Homo sapiens: one gene and its partner. The protein of the gene in region 2 interacts with the protein of the main gene of each other region in a biochemical or structural test. Each region holds a gene or a part of one and is shown on either strand. Other genes may lie near its edges.

What was found.
Region 1: the proteins of TRPC7 (region 2) and ITPR3 form a complex in vitro, tested with the Homo sapiens proteins (one study listed by BioGRID).

The regions. Positions count from the first base shown.
Region 1 is NC_000006.12:33,624,322-33,631,321, forward strand, and holds part of ITPR3 (inositol 1,4,5-trisphosphate-gated calcium channel ITPR3), read left to right. Parts: exon of another isoform or gene 1-69; intron 70-5,716; exon of another isoform or gene 5,717-6,063; intron 6,064-6,922; exon of another isoform or gene 6,923-7,000.
Region 2 is NC_000005.10:136,242,642-136,251,893, forward strand, and holds part of TRPC7 (short transient receptor potential channel 7), read right to left. Parts: intron 9,242-9,252; coding exon 9,008-9,241; intron 5,095-9,007; coding exon 4,830-5,094; intron 1-4,829. UniProt on the Homo sapiens protein: Forms a receptor-activated non-selective calcium permeant cation channel. Probably is operated by a phosphatidylinositol second messenger system activated by receptor tyrosine kinases or G-protein coupled receptors. Activated by diacylglycerol (DAG).

The DNA of each region.
Region 1 (7,000 bases), on a different chromosome or scaffold from region 2:
CTTGGTGGTGATTAAGGGAGCTGTGCTTCCTGCTTCCTTGGAAGTTAAGAGTCAAAGAAGGAATGATTTGTAAGTGCTGTAAGTAATCAGTCCAGCAGCTTCAGCGTCACCAGGAAGTTTGTCAGAAATGCAGAATCTCAGACCCCGTGCCCGTCCTACTGAATGAGAATCTGCATTTTATTAAGATCCCCAGGGGACTGGTGCATTAAAGTGTGAGGAGCGTTGCTCTGAGTGATTTTCTCTCTGCCCCATCCTCCTCAGAATCCTTCTGCCTCCTTTCTGAACTCTGGTCCCCTCTGCTTTTCCCGAGGCTGTTGGTGCCCATGTCTGTGAACCCATAGGCTGATTTGACTGAATTCCTGGGCTAACCCAGTGCCCAGTGTGTGGGCCCCAGGAGGTACCCAGTAAGGGCTGGATAAAAATGAATGTGTTGAAGGCAGGGGTGGCCTTGGTGGGCAGATGGGCCAGGTCACCTGGGAGATGGGAAGGGGGCATTAGTTGGGGAGGGAGGCAGAGGCAGCATTCAGATTCTGGCCAGAGCTCTTCAGTGCAAAGTGGACGAGGCCAATTAGAGCCTCCTGGAGAATTAGAGGTCCTAGTGAAGATTGTACATTAACTCTAGGTGGGAAGGATGGGAGGGATCTGGGTAGTGGATCCAGGAGCGGTTGAGACTGCCAGCCGGCCAGCAAGGGAAAGCAGGCCCACGCCTGTTCTTGGCAGGAGAGCAAGGCCAATGCCACTGCTTTATCCCTTACCCTAGGTGGGAGCAGCAGAGGCCAGGGATGGAGTAGCTGATTAGGGCCAACAAAAAGTGGAGGATTGAATGTGGCCTCAGGCCAGTGGCTAGGGAGAACTGGCCTTGGGTACACAGGGTGGACCCATCAGGATCTCAAGTCATCTCTTGAAGATCTCTTTTTTTTTTTTTGAGACAGAGTTTCACTCTTGTTGCCCAGGCTGGAGTACAATGGGGCGATCTTAGTTCACTGCAACCTCAGCCTCCTGGGTTCAAGCGATTCTTCTGCCTCAGCCTCCCGAGTAGCTGGGATTACAGGCATGTGCCTCCACACCCAGCTAATTTTGTATTTTTAGTAGAGACTGGGTTTCTCCATGTTGGTCAGGCTGGTCTCAAACTCCCGACCTCAGATGATCCGCCTGCCTCGGCCTCCCAAAGTGTTGGGATTACAGCCGCGAGCCACTGTGCCTGGCGAAGATCTCTTATGAGTACCCAGAGAGGTAGCCCCAGACCCACAGAAAGTAAACTGGGGGAGTGCAGGTGAACTGGGTCTTGGAGCTGAGCTTTCAACATTTGTCAAAGTGCCTCTGCCCACCCATGGCTCAGCCTTGGAGCCTATTTGGAGCTCTCAGGGCCTCTGGACCTGGATCACCCAGGGCTGGGTAATCATAGTGAGTAGGAGATGCTGCCTCTTACCCATGGGATTCTCTGTCTACCTGCCAGCCTGACCTGCTTCCCTGGAGGTCAGGACCCAAGAAGTATGGGGGTGAATATAGACGAAGCCCCAGGTCTCCAGGCTCAGGATCCCTAGGTCGGAAACCTCAGAGGCATAGCTCTCAGGAAGGGTGTCTGTCTCATGTTCCATCACCAACTTGTTGGGTGGTTTCTGTTTTGTTTTGTTTGAAATGGGGTCTTTGTCACCCAGGCTGGAATGCAGTAGTGTGATCTGGGTTCACTGCAGCCTTAATCTCCCAGGCTCAAGCAATCCTTACAACTCAGCCGCCCGAGTAGCTGGGACTACAGGCGTGTGCTACCGCATCTGGCTAGTTTTTGTATTTTTTATAGAGATGGGGTCTCCCCTTGCTGCCCAAGCTAATCTAAAACTCCTGGGCTCAAGTGATCCTCCCTCCTCTGCCTCCCAAAGTGCTGGGATTACAGGCATGAGCCGCCGTGCCTGGCCGTTGCTGGATGCTTTGAACAAGGCCCTGCCTTCTCAGAGTGAGTTTCCGTCAGCCTGCATTATCCTCTATGGTGCTCTGGCTGTACCTGAGAATCACCTGGGGATTAAAAAAAAAATTTCAGCTCCCAAGTCCCATGCCAGACCAACTGAATCACCATCTCTAGGGCTAAGGTCTGGGTGTTAGATTTTTAAAAAGTTCTCCAGGTGGTTTTAATGAGTACCTGGGGCCGGGATCCCTGATCTGGGGGCCCTCCCAGGCTGACAGGCTGTGAGGAAGCCTGCCTGCTAGGTCTACCTGCCCCTCAGCCCAGAAGGCCCATCTCTTTGCCCTCATCAGACTTCATAATGTCATTCAACAAACATTTATTAGGCATCTACCATGTGCTAGGCAAGGCACTGTTTTAGGCACTGCAGAATCAGTGGTACCCAAGGCACAGGTCCAGCTTGTTCCGTTCTGTGCAGTGGGGCCCTTTGAGCCTTAAGTCTGAGACACATGTAATTCCAGGAGCAGGGGACTGCCTTTCCCTCGCTGATAGCATTCCCTGGGTGGATTTCAGACCTGTCTTGGCTTTCTTTCTTTTATTTTTTTGGAGAGAGTTTTGCTCTTGTTTTCCAGGCTGGAGTACAATGGCACAATCTCAGCTCACCACAACCTTCGCCTCCCAGGTTCAAGCGATTCTCCTGCCTCAGCCTCCCGAGTAGCTGGGATTACAGGCATGTGCCACCACGCCCGGCTAATTTTTTTGTATTTTTAGTAGAGATGGGGTTTCTCCATGTTGGTCAAGCTGGTCTTGAACTGCTGACCTCAGGTGATCTGCCTGCCTCGGCTTCCCAAAGTGCTGGGATTACAGGCATGAGCCACTGTACCCGGCTTGGCTTTCATTTAATTGTGATTTCATTGGAAGAAGATGTTAGACTTCTGTTCTGTACCTCAAGGCAGATTCTTGGTCTTAGCCTAATCCATGCAACTCATTTTTTGAAAATATATATATTTTTTCAGATTAAAAAAAAATATACATTCCATGGAGAAAATGTGAAAAACTCAAAAAAATGATCTGTAATACCACTATGGCTTACATGAACATTCCCTATGACCTTCTAGCCTTTTATATTCATAAATGAACATTTACAAACAATATCAAACTGCACGTATGGCTTTGTACCCTGTCCTTTTTTGCATATATATAGTGAGCTGTATTTTCCCATGCCAACACACCATTGTTATGGCTGCACAGCCATGGTATGCTGTACCTTAATTTATTTAAGCAACTCTAGTATTCAACATTCAGGCTCTTTGTAAATTTTTGCTGTTAAGAACAATTTGCCCTGAACATCCTAGTGCATGCATGCCTGAACACTTGTCTAGTTATAGTTATCCTCTCAGGTAATACGTTCCCAGAAATGGAGATCAAAGACAAGGTACACCTTTAACTCTTAGGCTGTCTAACTTTTTGTGTTTCTGTGGTGGTGGAGGGGTATAGGAACAGAACTTGGTGCCACAGAGGGTCAGACATGATTCATGTCATGTGTGAGTGTTGCACTAGCATGTGGGGAGTAAGACCAGCCTCTGCCCTCAAGGTTAGGTACTAGGCACTTCCCAGGCAGTGCGAGGATGTGATGGAGAAGGGATGAAGTGGAGAGGGGGTGGCGCGGGGTTGGCTCAGCCTAGAACCAGTGCCACACATCCACCTTGAGACTCCAGGGTCTCAGGCTGCATCCAACTGCTCGGCCTGAATCCTGCCGGCCTGAAAGAATCCTGCTGGAGCCACTTGATTACACTCTGCCCTGCCCTACATTCCTGACCCCATATCCCCTCCCTAGCTTGGCCCACTGGGGCGGTGGCTTGGGTTGGGGGTGGGGACACATGCTGAGTTTTAGGGTGGGGCCACACCAGCTTTCTGTTTTCAGCTTAGGGGGAGGTTTCTGGGTTTGGATGACCTCTGCACACATGCCTGGAGTCCCTGCATGTCCACCCCCAGCCCTGCTCTCTAGACTTCACCCCATGTGGGGCTGGGACACCCCTCTCTGGGAGTGAGGGCTGTGTGAGTGGAAGGGAAGAAACCTGGGGTGGGGGAAGGAGGAAAGCAGAACGCAGATCTCTACTAAGTTCATCACAGGCCTCTGAATGTGAGCTCTGAGCCCCCTGGGTATGTCAGGCTGGTCATGCGAAAGGTGCCAGTGACACCCAGCATTTGTACCTGCAGTCACAATTCCCTGCAGTCAGGACACCTGGCTTGGAGAGCTTGGGGTCACGCAGCAGGGGACTGAGAAGAGAAGTTTGTAGGGCCTTTCAGGCTAGGGACTGTGAGAGAAATCGTGGGTGCAGAAATGAGGCTGGGCGTTCACAACACAGTGAGTCCAGGGTGTGGGCTGGGGATGGAACTGGGTGGAGCCACATGCCACATTACAGAGGGATTTCCACTTGGGGAGACAGTCAGGAGAGACTCATTGCAGAGGCTTCAGTGAGGGAGTAAAATGGCCAGAGTGCTATGTTTTTTTGGTCAGCAGGTGGGCAGAGCCGGAAGGGGCTGTCAACACAAATCTCAGTCCAGGAGCAGCTGCAGGTGCTTGAGGCAGACACCTGTGCATATTTGGTTAGCAAATTGCTCTCCCCATCGCTCAGCCAGCCAGCCCGCCAGCCAGCCAGCCATTAGCCCTTCCTGCACAGTGCAGGAGAGCCCTCTTCTCCAGTATGAGTCTAGAAATAGATGATGGGGGTGATATAGGTAATGGGAGGGAAAATTAAGTCTGTGTCTCAAAGATGATGATGATGATGGCAGTGGGTAGACTTTACAGATCACTTACATTGGGTGGCCCTGGCCTTTACCTATGCTCTCACAGCCTGAGGCATAAATACAATTCAGGAAAAGTAGTGGGAAGCATTTAGAACACCAATTTGCTTACCACCTAGACTTAATCATTGTTTACAGTGGTCACATTTGATATTTGTATTTTTTGCTGAAGTATTTTATGATAAATTACATACATTGCATCTTTTTCACCTCTAAATATTTTATTATACATCCCTATGTAACTACAGTGTTGTGATCACACCAATTAATAGTTTCCTAATAGCATTCAGGGCCCAATCCATAGTCAGATGTGCCCATTGTCCTCAGTGGTGTGATCAGAGTTCACTGTAACCTCGAACTCCTGAGCTCAAGCAATCCTCCTGTCTTGGCCTCCCAAAGTGCTGGGATTACAGCCACTGGGCCCAGGTTGTCTGTGTTTGACCGACCATTGGTTTCTTTTTTTTTTTTTTTGAGATGGAGTTTCCCTCTTGTAGCCCAGGCTAGAGTGCAATGGTGCAATCTCGGCTCACTGCAGCCTCTGCCTCCCGGGTTCGAGTGATTCTCCTGCCTCAGCCTCCAGAGTAGCTGGGATTACCAGTGCCAGCCACCACGCCCAGCTAATTTTTGTATTTTTAGTAGAGACGGGTTTCACCATGTTGGGCAGGCTGGTCTTGAACTCCTAACCTCAGGTGATCTGCCCGCCTCAGCCTCCCAAAGTGTTGGGATTACAGGCGTGAGCCACCACGCCGGGCCTGACCATTGGTTTCTTTAAATCAGGATCCTAGGCCAGGCGCAGTGGCTCATGCCTGTAATCCCAGCTCTTTGGGAGGCTGAGGCAGGCGGATCACGAGGTCAAGAGATCAAGACCATCCTGGCCAACGTGGTGAAACTCCGTCTCTACTAAAAATACAAGAATTAGCTGGGCATCGTGGCACATGCCTGTGGTCCCAGCTACTCGGGAGGCTGAGGCAGGAGAATCACTTGAACCCGGGAGGTGGGGGTTGCAGTGAGCTGAGATCGTGCCACTGCACTCCAGCCTGGCAACAGAGTGAGACTCCGTCAAAAAAAAAGAAAAACCATCGAGATCCTGTCAAGGTACTCGTGTTACATTTTCTTATGCCTCTTCAGTTTCCTTTAATCTAAAACAGCGCCCCGCCCTCATCTCCTTTTCCACCATGAACACTGAGTTTCTGGCAAGGCGGGGTTGTGGTGTAGGCTGCTTCACTTTCTGGATTGATTTGTCAGGGCTGCCTTTGTTGCTTTGTTTCCCAGAGAGCTCTGCGGAGGTTTGGAGCCAGGGCGAGTTGGCCTGAGGGTCTGCCCTGCTGAGGGTCCTACAGCCTCAGTTACTCTGTCAAGTGAGAAAGACTGAGAGAGTCCAGTTCTGGGTTATGGAGAGTGGGAGACAAGCCTGGGGCTGGCAGGCCAAATATATGAGGCAAGGGCTGGCTGGCGGCCCATGGTTGCACCTTTTCTCCCTCTCTTCCCAGCTTTCCCTTTGGTCTCCTGCTCCCTGTCTTTCTTCTCCTTGGCCTTACAGATATGTCCTCCCATGCACCCAGCACCGCTGTAGAGACCCCAGGACTTGTCAGACAGCCCGCCTGACCCTGACAGCCAGAAACCCAGGCCTGTGGCAGAGGCAGGGTGGCACACTGGCCCCGACCTTTATTTCTACTGGGCCAAGTTTAGTTGTTCTTGCTATCTCCATTCTTCCTGGAGAGACTATTTGGGTTCTCTGCGTGTGCGGCTTATTGTCCTTTCTAGACTTTAAGCTTTCTGAAGGCTTTAGCTGTACTTGTTTTAAAATTCTATATATTCCATATACTGTCTGGCCCCCCGTTGGTTGGCACAGGGTGGATTCTTGGTAAAGATATGTAGAGGTAAAGGAAATGGTTGCTTTTGCAGGGATGCAGGAGTTAATTTCTTTTCTCTGATGAGCCAGGAGCCCCAACCAGTGAATCTGGGTTTCTCTCTTAACATTCCGCCTAGTAGGTGTGACTTTGGCTATCTGGAGAAAGGGCCCCCCAGGCTTCCCACCCACCACCAGCCCATCCCAGTGTTCTGACAGTGCCTGCTGTTGGAGTGGCCTCCTTGGGGCTGGCCTGCATCTGTGGAGTGGTGGCCAGTTGTAGGGTCTAGCCCTACGGGGCTTAGTGGGTGTTCTCCCCATGTGCGGAGATGAGAGATTGTAATAAATAAAAGCACAAGACAAAGAGATAAAGAAAAAACACCTGGGCCGGGGTGACCACTACCATCAAGACGCGGAGACCAGTAGTGGCCCTGAACGGCTGGGGT
Region 2 (9,252 bases):
AGCTGAGAGTGACTTCCATCTCCCTATTGGTGCAATGATGAGGTTGGATCAGATTAGCATTTCTCATACTGTGATCCTAGACCATCTGTACCAGAATCCTCCAGGGGCTTGTTAATGTTGATTTCTGGGTCCTACCCAGAACTACTATAATCAGACTCTCTAAGAGGAAGAGCCTGGGAAGTCCCACGTTTAGCCACCTCCCCAGGTGACTCTGATGTGGTTTGAAAACCACTGCTCTGTTAAGGCTGCTCATACTGTATATTTATTCACACCTTGGGCTAAACCAATTTAATCCATCCATTTTCTTCTAGCCTCTTCATTGAGGTCTGCCAGATGGAGAAAATGAGAATCTGGGAGTGGCCGGAGGGAGGCGGTATGTGATTTTAGAACTGGAAGACACTGGGCGATAGGGCAGGCCTTGGTTGAGGGTTGGGGCTGCAGTTAGTAGAGAAGTCTTTCTTCTCTTCTTTCCCTCTGTCTTAGAATGCTTGCCCTTCCTCTTCCCCTTGGGACAGTGCTACAACATGGTGAGACTGGTTTTTGTGAGCTGGCCTGGGACTGCACCCCTAGGGTGAGCAGAGCTCATATGAAAAAGCTCCCTGTAGGTTTCTAACAGCTGACTTTCGAAGTGGACTCCTGAACAGTCTTTAGAGACTCCAATTGCCCTTGGATGTGGCAGGAATGGGGTTGGGGGGAGGTCAAAAGTGGGGCTGGGGGGATACCTGCAGTGTGCTCCAACCCAAATTTCCCTTCTGTAGAATTGGGTCTGCCGAGTCTATAGAAACAGATGCTGAGTTCTATAGACTCCTGCCTTACCCTACAAGCTCAAAATTCCACAGAGAACAGGCCACTCACCTGTGGGTGGGTCAAAGGGAAGATTATGAGCTGGGCAGGGCAGCCTGGGGATGGGCTGCTCTGGAGCAAACATTCACCTGAGTGAAGTTGTTTGACTTCATCATCAGCATGGCTGGCACTCAGAACAGCTTTGAGTATCCTAAGGCACGAGTCTCATTTATTCTCACATGGCTTTTTTTTTTTTTAATTAACAAAGAAGATCTCTTGGGGGTGACATGCACCGGAGAGCAGTCAAAAGGTAAAAGATGACATTTACAAAAATCCATTCTTTTCTCTCTCCACTTCACTGCTCTATTGACTGTTTTTCTGTTCAATCAAATCCTATTCACAGCTACACATCTCATTTCAGGAACTGCCACGGCGATAAATCTCCCATCCTTTCTTCACTGTGCTTGCCGCCTCCCCACCCTTTATCCTCTTCCCTCTCCTAGAAGGTCTGGGGTCCTCTTGGTTGGGTCTCTTGTGTCTAGGAAATCTTCATTCAGTTTGCCTTTCCCCATCACTCTTCCTAATCCCAAAGACCCCAACCCAGGCCACCTGCCTTCCTCCCTGTATTGGTTAGCTGTGCTGCATCTAGTTGAGAATTGTGGCTAGGTCAGCCCTACTCTAAAGTCATAATCTCTCTCTCTCTCTCTTTCGCCCTCCCCTCCCCTCCCTTCCCTCCCTCCTTCCCTCTCTTTCTTCCTTCCTTCCTCTCCCTCCTCCTCCTTCTTCTTCTTTTTTCTTTAATGAGGTTTCACTGTATTGCCCAGGCTGGTCTCAAACTCTTGGGGATCCTTCCACCTCAGCCTCCCAGTGTTGGGATTATAGACATGAGCTACCAGGCCTGGCCCCTTTGTCATTTTTCTGTGTGTCATGGCACTGATCTTCTGAGGGAGTGAGGGACTGTGGGCTGGTGATACAGGCTCTCCGTAGAGGAGGGAAGAGAGGGATTGCAGAGAATACTCTGGGCAGTAGGAACAGGATAGAAGTGCACACTGTCAAATGCCCAGTCTACTGTTTATTTGACTACTTTGACTCTGGCTTCCTTTCTCCTGTTTATTCCCTCATTCTTGTTCATAAAGCATTTAATGAGCAAACAACCTTTGCAAGGCACCATGCTAGGCTAGAAACACAGGAGGGACACCAGGGTCTGATCACAGAAAGTAAGAGCCTTCGTTTATCGGCTGACATCCTCTCCATGTTCAGTAGCAATGCATCCCATGTGGAGTGGATACATTTAGTTTTACCTTTAGCAGATCTAGAGCAAATTTGCTTTTGGGTGATTGAAACTTATTCTATTCCTTCAGCAGTTAATCACTAAGTATTGGAGTGATATAAAGTAGTCCAGCTGATTCAACAATGTGCTTGGCCTGTGCTGGTGGACAGTGTGTAAGCTAGACCACTGCCCAGAAAGGGCGCTATAGACCAATTCAGTACTCAGGTGTCTTTTCTTGCAATTTATTCTCCCCTGAGGATAAATTATTCACCATCTCCATTATCATCATTACTATTTATTGAAGGCTCACTTTATGCCAAGCATTGCATTTGGTCGTATTTCTTCTTATTGGATCCTTACAACAATCCTGTGAAGTTGGCTCTCTTAGTATTCTCATTTTGGAGCTGGGGAAATTGAGGCCCAAGGGATTTAAGCACTTGCCCAAGGCCACAAAGTCAGTAAGAGGCCGAGCTCAGACTGAAACCTAGTCTGTCGGTCCATGGGGTACCAAGGCTCCAACATAGCCTGTGGGCCGAGGAGCAGAGCCAAGCACCTCTCAGGTGCATTTCTCAGCACTGGGCCTGGCACCTATTCTCTTGACACACAAACTACTTTGCTTCAGGGAGTAACAGCTTCTGTGGTTCAGCAGCACCAGAGTCCCACTCTTTTAGGTAGTTTCAGCTGGGTGGGGCAGCGCAGTCCATAATTCTGAGCTAAGTGGCACAGAATTCATTGTACTTGGTTCTCAGAGACAAGTATCTTACCTTAATGGGTGATTTCTCCAGAAGAGTAAGATGAGGCCCTGCTGCAACCTGGAAATTGCTCAGGGAGTCTGAGGGGCAGGGATCAGAGCCATTTCTACTAGCTGGAAAACTGACATTCTAGGCCACTCAGGGCTTCCTGGGGACAAGTGTCAGGAAGTGCTTAGCCCCATTGATCCTGGCTGCTGTGCTGGGATTCCACAAGGCTGAAAACCTGACTATCCTCCTTTCAAGACTTTGGCCAAGAGCTTGGTGAAGGCAAGGAGAAGTTCTGGAACTGAGTGGGTCTGGGGCAGGACATGGACTGGAAACACTTCTGTGTTTCAGGCACTTTATGTAAACATCCTCATTTATCCATAAAGGTATTTGTGAATAAGGTGGGAAACCTTATTTTCATTTTATAGACGAGGACACAGAGGCTCAGATAAATCAAATGACTTAAGTTCACCGGCCAGTATATGCCTGTGTCAGGAAGTATATTCAGGTCTTCCACACTCTTCCACTAGACCCTTCTCGGTGCTACCGATGGCTGGCCCTCCAGGAGACTATCTGGCATCCTGCCCCGTGCCCATCCCCAGGGGAGGAGCTTTGGATCTTTGTGGACACAGGCTTAGAGAGCTCCATCACCACTTCCACGGTGGGGGATGTGCATGCCATTGTGTTACTCTGCCTGCTTTCTGGAGCACCCCTAGCAGCTACTTCTGGACCCCAATTTCAGTGTCTTGCCTCATGCTCAGGCTGCATGCCTCCTGCCTCTCTCACATGGGCTTTCCTTCCTGCTGCAGAGGCACATGATGCTGCAGGACTTGCTGGGTGTCCACACACAAGACCTGGCTTGCCCAGCCAGGCATGGAGAGCAGTGACCTGCAACCACTCGCAGACCTGCCTCCCATGCTGTGTGGATATGGCTTCCCCAGGGCTTCCCTGGAAGTGTAGGTGAGTTAACGTCCTATGGAGTGACTAATGAGAGACAGCAGATGGGACTGATCTGGATGATAAATTCTCTATTCTCAGCCTGATGGGCTATTCTGAGATGTGGTCTTTCCAGATAGTCCCCCTGGAGAGGTCCATCATGCCCATGCTGTGTATTCTGGTGGGCAGTGGCCAGGGAGCTGCCTGGATTTGCTTTCCCCATCTTCACTTCACACACCTCTCATGCAGCAGCACTTTGTACTTGCTTCCCCTCTTCCCATTCTTCACTTTCCTTTTTCCTTCAGTTTTATTTCCCTTAGATTGCAACTCCCTCACTCTAATAAAGTGTTAGCATGCAACTTTTACCCAGAGTTCTGTTTTCTAGGCAACACAGGCTAAGACAATAATAACAGTAAGAATAATTTTTTTTACCACATATTGAGTTTACTACGTGAGTTACATCATCTCACTGAATCCTTGCACAATCTCTATGAAGAAGGTACTATTATTATCACCATTTTAAAAACAAGAAAATGAAGTATCAGAGATGTTAACCCATTTCCCCTTGGCCCCAAGAATACTCGCCAGCATGCTTGCTGCTGCATTGTTTACCCTGAGATAACTCATGGATTGCAGTCCTAACTTTACCCCCAAAGTTTACCACCACAAAATATCTCGCTTTTATTATTATTTTCACATCACTCTAGTCTATCAACTTTGGAAACAAAAGACAACATTATATTAATGGCATTCTGTTTTTAGTAGTGGTCTTTCCATTTATGAAATTTCCATTTATGAAATAATTCCTGATTGCTGAGAATGTCAAATCCTAGAAAACGTAGCATTCCTACATGTGATTTTTTTTTTTCTAAATGGGAACATGCTCTGGTCACACGAAATGTAAGTGGCAAAGTGAGGATTTAACTCAACTCATCTGTTCAACTCCAGAACCTGAACTCTAAACCACCCTTGAATAAAGTTGCCTTTAACCTTGAGAGATAGCAAGGAAACAGCAGTCTCTGCAAGAAGCCACCTTCAGGAGACTCCCAAGGATTCCCAGGAAGCCCAGGGAGAACCTCAGGGGAAAGCTCTCAGATACTCACGTTGTAAACGCTGGGTTGTATTTGGCACCTCGGTAGTAAGAGTACAGGTTGAACATCCCAATCATGAAGGCCACAAATACCATGATGAAAATGACCATGAACTTGAAGATATCTTTCACAGTTCTCCCTAGCGAGATCTGCAGGGGCCCAAAACTCTCGTTGGCTGGCAGAATGTATGCAATGCGAGAGAAGCTCAGCACGACGGCTATCGCGTAGAGCCCTTCCGATATGATCTGAGGGTCTGAAGGCCACCACTTGTCCCTGGCTAAAAGAAAACAATCTGGGTTACTCACGAGGCCACAGGATCTATTCTAGAAGAGAAACCAGTTAGGCATCTTTAGAGGTCTCCAACTGCATCATTTGCCATTCTTGTCCTTGTCCTTAAATTAATCCCAATATCCAGAAGTTGCCACCCTCCCTCTTGGAATGTGCTGGACCATCTGCCTGGAACACTCTTCTCTCACTTCGAAGTATGATTCATTCCTAATCCTCCTCTAAGACTCTGCTCAGGCATCACCTCTTTCAGGAAGCCTTCTGTGATCCCCCTTACCCCCACCACGGGCTGGGCAGGTTCCCAGTTTCCGTCTGTGCTCTCATTGTATCCTGTACACCCTCCATGTCTTGGCACTCACCAGGCCACTTGCTATTCTGTCTCCCTCACCAGTGTTTAGCTCCATGCTCAGGAGCTGTCCCACTCACTGGGGAGGCAGCGCGAGGAATAAGATGGGCAAGAGCATGGACTTGGGAGTCAGACATCCCTGAGGCTGAATGTGGCCCATCCACCTACTGGCCACATGACTCTGAGAGACAACTAACTAACCTTTTGAGCTTTATTTTCCTCCTCTCTAAATTATGGATAATATCCATTTCACAGGACTGTGGAGAGGATGAAATGAAATCATACATGTAAAGTGCTCAGCACAGGGTCTGGCACACAGCAGGTACAGATAAGTGTTTGTCAAATGACTGAATAGACTTTTAACCACAAGTTTAGACCAGACACAGGTCAGAACAAATAAGCTCACATGGGGACCAGGAATCTAAAGGATCTTGCCTGAAAAAATACTCTTGGGTTTTGTTCCTCAGGTACTGTGTGCTGGGATATTGCTCCTTGATTAAGCTAAGGCCCCAAAGTGGTGACCAGTCAGGCAGGTTTGCCACGACAGCCCTGTTCCAGGTAGGCAAGGGTCCTAGGACTGATCCTGAGCTGGGAAGGCTCTGCTTGTGGTCACTGTGACCACAAGGGCCTGAGCTCTCCTATGGGTATTTCTGCTGCAGAGCAAACCTGCAAAGTGTTCCTATTGCAGTTCTAATGGTACAAGGAGCAGCACCTATCACGAATCAGCTGTCTATTACATGTCAGTGATTCTCAAGTGAGGGCAGCACTTCTCTCATGGAGGATGTGTGGCGGTGTCTCTGGTTGTCAAAGTGACTGAATAGGAGTACTACTGGGATGCTAATGTCCTGCAATGCTCCAGACAGATCTGTACAATGAAAACTGCCCTGCTGGAAAAGCTAATAGTGTCCCTATTGAGAAATGCTGAGTGAAATATTAATTGAGAAGCATTGAGAAACCTAAATTAGCACTTACACTTACATTAGCTGTAATTTTCACAACAGCCCTGTAGAGTAGATATCATTATTGCCATTTTTAAGATTGGATTTAGGGTATGGGGTCCTTTTCAGAGACCGGTAAATGCAGATAGCAAGGATATTACATAGCAATTCGTGGCATTCCAAGGGAGATTGAAGAGGAAGGCTTTTATTCTTTATTTTCAAAACTAGACTCTGTTAAATAATTATAATAATAGAGAGCAGTAAGAAACCTTTAGTAAAGGAAGCCAGGCCACAAAGTTTCATGGAGTGATTCTAAATTGCATTTGGAAATATAATAACATTACAGATTCTATGTTCTCATCAAGGTCATACCTCAAAAAACCATGAAAGACTAGTAAGCAGAATAAATTACATGTTTTCCAATATATCTGTCATCTTCTATGGATAAATATTTGGATAAGATAAAATAAGACATAACTTCTCCCGTTAAACAGAAGGCAAAAAGGAATTCTTTTTTTCTGCGGCCTCTAGCTCACCATCTTAAACCTCAGTCACAATAACAAGACACTCTTATAATCTACTCAGATAGATTTAGCTGTTGTCAGATCCTGGTGACTAGGTCAGGACTTATATTGAAAAATATTATATTTCAACTGACTTGTAAAGAGTTGTGATGAGTGTAGAATGAACAGCACTGTGATGATTTGGACAAAGGGGTTTTCTCCTTAGAGCTATTTCCAAGAGAAAAATTGCCCTATCACAACCTGAAAAATTGTTATCTGCGCATTTGGTGCTGTAGAGGTTGGAAGGAGCCACCGTCCAGCTGGCCACAAGAGGGCTCTCCTGCCCTGTAACTGGAGCACAAGTTAAGCCAGAAATCCAAAGGATTTCCAAGGGCACAGCGTGAACCGCAAATACAAGAGCAATAACGTACTATGCTTTGGGTTGGGTGAGACCTTAATACAACCCATAAAGCAACAGAAGTCAGAAGTGGACAATACTGCAGCCTGAATCCTGGCATTAAGAAAAGTACATAATGCAGCATCAATATTCTCTCTTCCTTCCTTGATGAACCCTAACAAGACAGAGGATAATATCCAAGCTATTTTGCTTTAAGAAAGTCTGAATTTGCCAAACCCCAAAATGGCAGAGGGTGGGTGGGTGGATGACTTGTAATACTACAAGACTCTCCATTTCTCAATGGAGATTTCCCTACCACATTTACATGTAACATAATCTACACTGAAAACGGGCAGTTACTCAACTTTTGCGTTAAGCGAACAACCCTCTGCAGATCATTGTTGTACCTGACCACAGAATCATTGTTGTATCTTACCATAAAGATTCTGTGGTCCCGGAGCCATCTGGCTTCATGTAACAGGGACATTCAACACTCAATCCCTTCAAGATGTTGTAGCTACCATTAGCAATTGCCTACTAAGTGTCCAGCTGCTTTTTACTGTTAACAAGTATCTACTGTTCCTTCAACTTTCAACATCTTTCTGTTTCAGTACAGAAATTACAGTGTTTGAACAAGAAAATGACCCAAAAGGTAGTAGTAAGACATAACTTATTTTAAAATAAGTAAGCAGATAATAGCTGCTACCATTAAGTGAGCATTTACTATTTTCACAGCAGAGTGCAAAGCGCTTCACATACACTATTTTATTCAGCCCTCAAAACAAACTTTTTGATGTAGGTATTATTATCTCTGTTTTACATATGAGAAAAAAGAGCTCAGAAAAGTTAAGTAAACAAGATCTCACAGTAAACTACCGAACTAGGATTTGAATCCAGGTCTCTTCTACTCCAAAGCTTGGGGACATAACCACTATGCTATTCAGCATGATTTTCAAATCATGTCAGGCCAGGATTCCCTGCTATACAAGGCAATCCTGTATTTTCTGGAAACATTATAAGCCCTGCTATAAAAACCTGATTCTTCATGTTTAAAATAGGGACAAAAGAAGGACCCTTTTTTGCCGGGCTATTTGCAAGAATTAGAATTGTGTGTATAAAATGTCTACACAATTCCTGGCACATAGTAGGTTCTCAATAAACATATGTTATAACTATTATTAGTATTCCTAAAGTCTCAATCTACTACATCAAACTGTAAGCCTTTGCATTTTGCAAGAATTAAGGTAATTAAGGTATCTTCTAAGAATGTATCTTGCCACCAAGCAATAACTAGGAAAGCAGGATTTATTTTTGCACAAAACACAGGGATCCAATATAGAAGGAAAATTCTTCCGCATATACATATCCCTTTAGCGCTCCTGGATGCACATCAGAAACAAGACGTTTCTTAAAAACAAACAAACTACAGAAATGTTCCCAAGGGCCTTTCAGAAACAAATTCACCCTTAACACAAAAAGATTCATTTCTCAAAGTCACTAATTCCACGTTCTATTCTGCTGGCTACACTTCCAGGACCAAGGGTTTTTTTGAGGTGGAAAGGATGCTCTGCACTGACAGTGGAACTGCCAAAGTCGGCTGTGTTACAAATCATGGGCCACTTGATTACAAATAGCGTTACAAGTTCACCAGCCACAGTGAAGCACCAGGCCCACGTCCCGGAAGCGCCAAAATGGAGTAGGGGAAGCACTCTCCGACTCACCGTAGGTGAAGTATGCCACTTCCGGCGGAAGCGAGACATTGTGCAGCGTGTCGTCCTGCACGTGCTGGTCCACGTACAGCTGTGCCTCCGTGGCCTTCAGGAAGGCCATGAAGCGTGCTGTGAAGGAGGCCACGAAGATGGACAGCATCCCGAAATCTAGCAGGTTCCACAAGTGCAGCACGTACTCCCGTGGCCCCTCCTCCCAGATTTCCTTGCATTCGGACCAAATCATTCCTGTGGGAGAA